Homo sapiens: one gene and its partner. The protein of the gene in region 2 purifies or fractionates together with the protein of the main gene of each other region. This does not show direct contact. Each region holds a gene or a part of one and is shown on either strand. Other genes may lie near its edges.

The links. Proteins that work in one complex are often made in the same cells at the same time.
Region 1: the proteins of MGAT1 (region 2) and GDPD5 purify together in Homo sapiens (co-immunoprecipitation; one large-scale study listed by IntAct). This does not show direct contact.

Annotation. Positions count from the first base shown.
Region 1 is NC_000011.10:75,515,942-75,519,441, reverse strand, and holds part of GDPD5 (glycerophosphodiester phosphodiesterase domain-containing protein 5), read left to right. Parts: exon of another isoform or gene 1-427; intron 428-1,168; exon of another isoform or gene 1,169-1,226; intron 1,227-2,015; exon of another isoform or gene 2,016-3,500. UniProt on the Homo sapiens protein: Glycerophosphodiester phosphodiesterase that promotes neurite formation and drives spinal motor neuron differentiation.
Region 2 is NC_000005.10:180,789,307-180,792,806, forward strand, and holds part of MGAT1 (alpha-1,3-mannosyl-glycoprotein 2-beta-N-acetylglucosaminyltransferase), read right to left. Parts: coding exon 2,328-3,500; 3' UTR 1-2,327. UniProt on the Homo sapiens protein: Initiates complex N-linked carbohydrate formation. Essential for the conversion of high-mannose to hybrid and complex N-glycans.

The sequences.
Region 1 (3,500 bases), on a different chromosome or scaffold from region 2:
CTGCTCCGTGGAATGAATGAATGAACAGCCTGGTAGGGTTGGGAGGACACAGAAGCAGTGACAACACAGAATGTGACAGGGAAGGCCAGGGGCCTGGGGTTGCCCGGCGCTGGGTGGGGAGGGGAGTCAGGGAAGCCTTCCTGGAGGTGGTGCCCATGTTGCTGACTTTGGACCTCTGTGAGATCAGCACTGAATGAGCTGAGAGAGGAGTAGCTCCTCTCCAAAGGTAGCTGGCAAGGAGGAGAGCTTGGGCAGACCCCAGGACCAGTGGACTCCACAGGCCTCTCACTTCCCACCAACCCACACCATCTCTCCATCTGTGACATTCTGCTTTCAGGGCATGAGGAAGGCGGAAAGGCAGGTGGGGAGGAAGTGTGGGCTGCTGGTCTGACAGGCTCAGCTCTTCCCAGGCTTGTGACCAAATCTCCTGCAGAAAAGGATAAACAGGCCTGCTTTGAGTTCTTTTATCTTCTTGCTCCCAAGGCACACCAGCAAGCAGAGGGGGTCTTCCAGCGTTAATCCTGCAGCTGTTTAGCTTTTGAACGAGTGGACTCTTTAAAAAAAATGCCACGAAGAATGTCTCACTCTCTCACCCAGGAGGCTCAAAGAGAAACTTCTCTCCCACTGACAAGGGAGCTGGAACCCCCAAGTGTCTTAAAGAAGCTCACCCCAGGGGCAGTCTGAAATCAGGGGACCCCTCATGCTGCCTCGATTTGTTGCTGGCTGTGGGGCCTTGAGGACACCCTTATATTTTGCTTGGCTTCTGCCCATTTTGTAAAATGGGGTCAGGGTAATAAATCCCTTCTTTCCTTAGAAAGGCGTGTGGCAGGAGAGTTTCAGAGGTGGGAAGGGCAGCAGTGGGCATCCAAGCCCATGGCTTTCAAACTTTGTTTCACATTAGAATCATCTGGGAAACTTTTAAAAGTCCTGCAGGCCCCACAATCTCTGGGGCATGACCCAGGCATCAGTAGTTGATGAAGCTCCCCTGGTGATTTCAGTTTGAGAGCCACCTGGCTGCCCTCTGCAGCCTACCTCCCACAGTGTCCCAAGACAATACTTGCACATCCCCAGGACAAGGAGCTCATTCCTTCCGAGGCTGCTTCCTCCCCCCAGGACCTTCCTGCCTGGAGAGATGAGGGGAGTGGGAAGACTTGGTAATCCAGTTAACCTGGGTTCCAGCATGCAGCTGCTCCCTGCGTGTCTTCTCGGAGCCTCAGTTTCCTCATCTGAAAAATGACAATAACGATCTCTCTGAAAGGGCCACAGAGGCCAGACGAGGCCACACATGGCAAGCACCCACCCCATACCTGACGCCGGGCTGGACTGAGACCCTGAACTCCCTGCCCCAGCCACCTGAGGCCAGGTCTCTGAGACTGGCGCTGGTTAGGGTGGGATCAACACCCAGCCCGGGGGCCCTTCCCACTGTCCCCTTTCTCTCTAAGAGATAAGACAAGGCAGTAAGCATTTTGTTTTGCTCAGTTTTGCTTTAATGGTCAAAGTGTCAGACTCTCCTTAACAATGAAGCCTTGTCTGAATCTGCTTGTTTTTCCAACCCGGACACCCAACTGCACCACCTGCTTGGGGCCCCTGTCCCACCTGGGAGAACTGAAGAATGTCAGAGGATTTTTTTTTTTAATCTAGGGGAGGGTGTCCAGGGAACATTGGAGGCCTCTGTGCAAATCCTCACCGATAATTGACCCCACTTAAGTCATCCAACTCTGCTGTGATTGTGAGCCAGTTCACTAAAATTATTTCAAGGTAGTTACTAGGTGTTGAGCTAAACCCCTATCAGTGCCAGTGAGGATGGCACCAGGCTCAAGAGGCCAAAGAGGAGACCCAGAGCCAGCGAATGAGCCATGGGGTTTTACTACGGGCTCACACACAGGGGAGAGAGTCCAGTGGCTGCTGGCTGGACCGAAGAACCACAACCACTCGCAGGAAGTGTGCAGTTTTTTTGTTTTTGGTTTTGGTTTTGGTTTTTTTTTTTGAGACAGAGTTTCGTTCTTATTGCCCAGGCTGGAGTGCAATGGCGCGATCTTCACTCACTGCAGCCTCCGCCTCCCAGGTTCAAGCGATTCTCCTGCCTCAGCCTCCCAAGTAGCTGGGATTACAGGCAAGTGCCACCACACGCAGCTAATTTTGTATTTTTAGTAGAGATGGAGTTTCGCTATGTTGGTTAGGCTGGTCTCAAACTCCTGACTTCAGGTGATCCGCCTGCCTCAGCCTCCCAAAGTGCTGGGATTATAGCTGTGAGCTACCGCCCCCCAGCCTAAAAGCTTGCAATTTCTATAGCATTTTCACTTAGCACCTCCCCCAACAACTTCCACCTAGCAACCTCCATTTACCCCAAACCACAGACCTCAATCCTCTGTTTGGCCCGCAAGTTCCATAGGATGGGCCAAGAGCTCAGATGTTCCTCATAGATAAGGAGTGGATCTCCGGGTTGGCTACTCCCAGATTCCTTAGCTTAGAACCAAACTGCATTGAGGTGCGCCTGCCATACAAGGTCATTCTCAGGGCTTGCTCAAGTCCAGGTATCACTGTCCAACGTGTCTACCATACAGAAGACAGAAAACTTATGTTGATCCTGGCTTTGTCACTTACTGGCAGGATGACCCTGGAAGAATCATTTTATCTCTTTGAGCACGAGTTGTTTCTCCTATAAAATGCATTTGTAGGAAGGACTTCCTGGGATTACCTGAGAAGCAAATAAAATTACTGGTATGTGGAGCACAGTGCCTACCGTAAACTAAGCACTCAAGAGCTGTTGGTGCATGCACTTGCTGGGGAGCTGACCCCTGCCTCCTGCCCCTTCCTTCACTGGCTGGTCCACGCTCCCTGTCTCCCAGTCTGCTCCCCTTGCCCCACCAGGCCCAGGCTGAGACAGAGGACAGAGGAGGCCTGCACATGTAATCATGGGCATCCCTTCAAACTGCTCTTCTTTAAGACCAGAGGAGGCTCTGAGGACTGGACAGAGGAAGACTACAAAAGGGGCCATCAGTGGCAGTGCTTGGTCTCCTTGCCTGGGCACAGCCAGAGAGGGTACATCAACCCAGAGTGACTGGCTCAGGCATTAGGCGTGTGACAAATCAACACGGGATAGTGCAGCACCGAGGGACTAGCAGTGGCTGGGAGCAGTTACCACTCAGGGCTGAAGGAGCAAGGGAAGTGGGCAGCTATAGGGATAGGGGCTGTGGGCCATCAGTACAGGGACCCAGTCAACCCAGGAGACCTCACAGGGGATAAACTTCAACTATCTTTCCTCTTTCCTTCAGTCCCCCATTTATGCTTCCTGTTGGGTGTACCTCTCTGAAAGCCAGCAGCATGGAGCCCATTACATTCCACAGAGGTCAGTTCCCAGGGCCCCAAACAAGGTAGAGAGTGGCTCTGGAGAAGCAAACCAAAGACACTTCCTCACTCTGTCCATCAAAAGCCCGGGAGTCCACTGAATACACTGTCCTTAGGACACAGTTTAAAGATCATCTGTTTTTACCATACCC
Region 2 (3,500 bases):
AGTTTCGCTCTTACCGCCCAGGCTGGAGTGCAGTGGTGCGATCTCAGGTCACTGCAACCACCCCGTCCCGGGTTCAAGCAATTCTCCTGCCTCAGCCTCCCAAGTAGCTGGAATTACAGGCATGTGCCACCACACCCAGCTAATTTTTGTATTTTTAGTAGAGATGGGGTTTCACCATGTTAGCCAGGCTGGTCTCAAACTCCTGAAGTGATCCACCCGCCTCAGCCTCCCAAAGTACTGGGATTACAGGCGTGAGCCACCGCGCCTGGACTAGCCCAGGGTTTTCAAACCCACTCATGAAATCAAGTTCGTGAGTCACAAAAAGCGTTTTGTTTTTCCGAGACAGAGTCTTGCTCTGTCGCCCAGGCTGGAGTGCAGTGGTATGATCTTGGATTACTGCAACCTCTGCCTCCCGGGTTCAAGTGATTCTCCAGCCTCAGCTTCCTGAGTAGCTGGGATTACAGGTGTGTGCCACCATGCCCAGCAAGTTTTTGTATTTTTAGTAGAGTATTTTTAGGTTTCACCATGTTGGCCAGGATGGTCCCGAACTCCTGACTTCGTGATCCGTCCGCCTCAGCCTCCCAAAGTGCTGGGATTACATGTGTAAGCCACTGCGCCCGGCCGCGTTTTGTTCTTTTAAATGAATTAGTGGAGAACAGAAACTCTCAGAATGTTGCACGTGATATGCAGAGGTAACAGTCTGTCTGTGTTCTGGGTATTAGCAAAACAGGCACTCTCACTGGGGTTGCGTTTGGGAGTCCAAGCGCCACTGTGAGGCCAACCCTGGTATCAGCTGTGTACCCTGAGGCTCCCCGGCACGTCATAAAGGGCACTCAATAAGCACTGCCTGGGCCAGCAGAGGGCACCGGGCACAAAGCACCACTCAGGGACCACCCTGATCAGAGGACCTGGTTCTTCCCCAGACCAGGCCTGCCCAGCCAGCAGGAGGCAGAAGCAGGAGACACTCACCAGCTTTCCTGCTGCGGCCTCCTGGCTCTACAGGACGATCAGCAGGAGCACAGTCCGGGGCTCCTCTCCACCTTGTGGCCTGGACTTCCTTTCCCACCTGGCCCCCATCCCCTGGGCTGTCCCTGGCTCTTCCCTCCCACTCATCTGCTTTCTTTCCTCAACTTTGCTTCCTCCCACCCGTCTAGCCCTCTCCTTAACTCTTCATTCTCCCTTTTCCTTTCTTTCCCTGCCTGCCACCTCCTTTTCCAGGACACACACACATAAATATTTTTCAGACAATTCAGCCTTTATTTTAGAAAATAATTCTGTAGCTTCCACTTTCTTTCATGAAACTGAGGTCAGGCAAGAAACAAAAATCCACCAAGTCCTCTCCATCCTGCCATGGCGTCCTGGCCTGTGAGGACATGGGGCGCCTGGGAGCGGGCGGGGAGGCTGGGCAGCACTGGGCCAGAGGCGTCCTGGTCACTGCTCCACCTGGTCACTGCTCCACCTCATGCTGAGAGGAGCCTGTGTGTCAAACCCCAGGGGAAAAAGGGACAGGCAGATCGAATTCTGTCTTCTACCAAGCCAGCAGGAGCCTCCTAGAGCAACAGGGAGGGCACTGATTTTCAGAAAGGAGGGGTCAGGGCATAGTCCCTCTCTGAGGTAAGGCAAGAGAGAGGTTGTCCCAGCACAAGGCCTTCCTCCCTGCACCTCTCTCCTGACAGCTGGGCATGGGCTGAGGAGAGGTCTTGCTTGCCCCCTTCAACTTTCCATCTCAGAACTATAAACTGCTAGGCTGCAAGGAGAGAAGGGCTAAGTGGGGGTCAGACAGGAGAGAAGGGCAGGAGGCAGTGAGCCCCGATGACCCACCAACTCCACCAGGCCCTGACAAGGAAGCCCCTTTGGTTAGTATCATTTTGGCCACAAATATGTCCCCTTCTCCCATAACTCAGTCCCCACTGGGGGAAGGGGAGCAGGTATAGAAGGAGGGCTCGTGCCCTGGCTGGAAGAGCCAGGTCAGGGAGAAGGGGTCTGGTCAAGAGAGCGAACGTTGCCAAACTCTCTGCACATGCTCCAGGAGAAAGCTCAGGACGTGGACATTTCTGGCCCCAACAAGCCCAGTGCCCCCCACCACACAGTGGTTTCCTGCTTAATACCCCGCAACATACCCTAGAATAGTTCCCCTGATCTGACTCCCTTGAGAACGGGAGAATAATCCTCTTGTTATCATTTGTGCACTTAAATGCCACTCGGAAAAATCAAAAAGATAAATGCACCTAAGAGGGAAACACAGGCAGGCCGATGCAGCCTGGGGACTGTGGTCCCACCTCAGCTCATGATGTGGCAAGGAGGGGCCCAGGAAGGACAGGCAGGTGCTAATTCCAGCTAGGATCATAGCCCTCCCACGTCAGTGGGGGCGCCAGGTGGACACGGCGGCCCCGGAACTGGAAGGTGACAATACCCCGGTAGCCAGCTCTCGGAACCCCCGACTTAAGGTCATCCATGACACCCAGAGCCTTGGCGAAAGCCTTGAAGCTGTCCCTGCCCGTATACTGCACCCGCACCTCCCCCAGCTCCTTCCGGTCATTGGTCCTCACTTTCTCCACCTGCAGCTGGGGAGCACCGTAGACGCGGGCGAGGAAATCTCGGTCATAGGCCTCCCGCTGCAGGTAAGACAGGTCCAGCTGGGTGAAGTGCACAAACTGCTGGTTCAGCTTGATAAACTTGAGGTGCTGGTCAAAGAACTGCCCGTGGCTCACACCCTTGCGGCCAAAGGTCATCGTTCTTGAGATCTCAGGGCGTATGCAGGCCCGCCCCTGCCGCTGCTCCGGCCGCCGCATCCAGTCGTCCCAGAAGGCCTTTGGCCACTTGGGCTCCAGCTCAGCCCAGAGCTCGGCCAACAGCAGCCAGCCCAGGCCAGGGAAAAAGTCGGTGCGGTAGAGCAGCTCAGGCCTGCTGGCGTCCACCATCTGCTCCTTGCCGTTGTCATTCCAGGCCGAGACGCACCACAGGGAGGGGTCGGCCTTCAGCAGCGGATAGGTGGCCCGAAAGTACTCGAAGAAGTCCGGGGCCACCTCCAGGTCATCCTCCACCACCACGGCCGCGGGGAAGCGAAACTGCCGGAAGACCTGGCCCAGCGCCCAGCGGTAGTGGCGCGCGATCTTGTAGTAGCCCTGGAACTTGCGGTGGTCCGGCGGCACCGCAATGCTGCTCAGGTCGGGCTGCCGGATGTGCGTGACCGCGCTGCCGTAGGAGGCGATGGCCTGGGCCGTCTCCTCGTGCCCGCAGTCCTGGCTAACGATGATGGGGAAGAGCTCAGCCGAGGGCCGATAATGCAGCAGCTTGTCCAGGCAGCGCCGAACAGTGCTGCGGTCACAGGCGATGACCAGGATGGGAATCACCGCCGGCGCGGGGGTCACAGGCACACGCGGCTGGGCGGGAGGGGCCGCGGTGGGCACCCTCCCCCGCTGGCTCGACAGGGCATCCCCGATCTGCTGCAGCAGCCCACGCTGCCGCTCCAGCTCCACCTCGGCGTCTTGGGCCAGGCG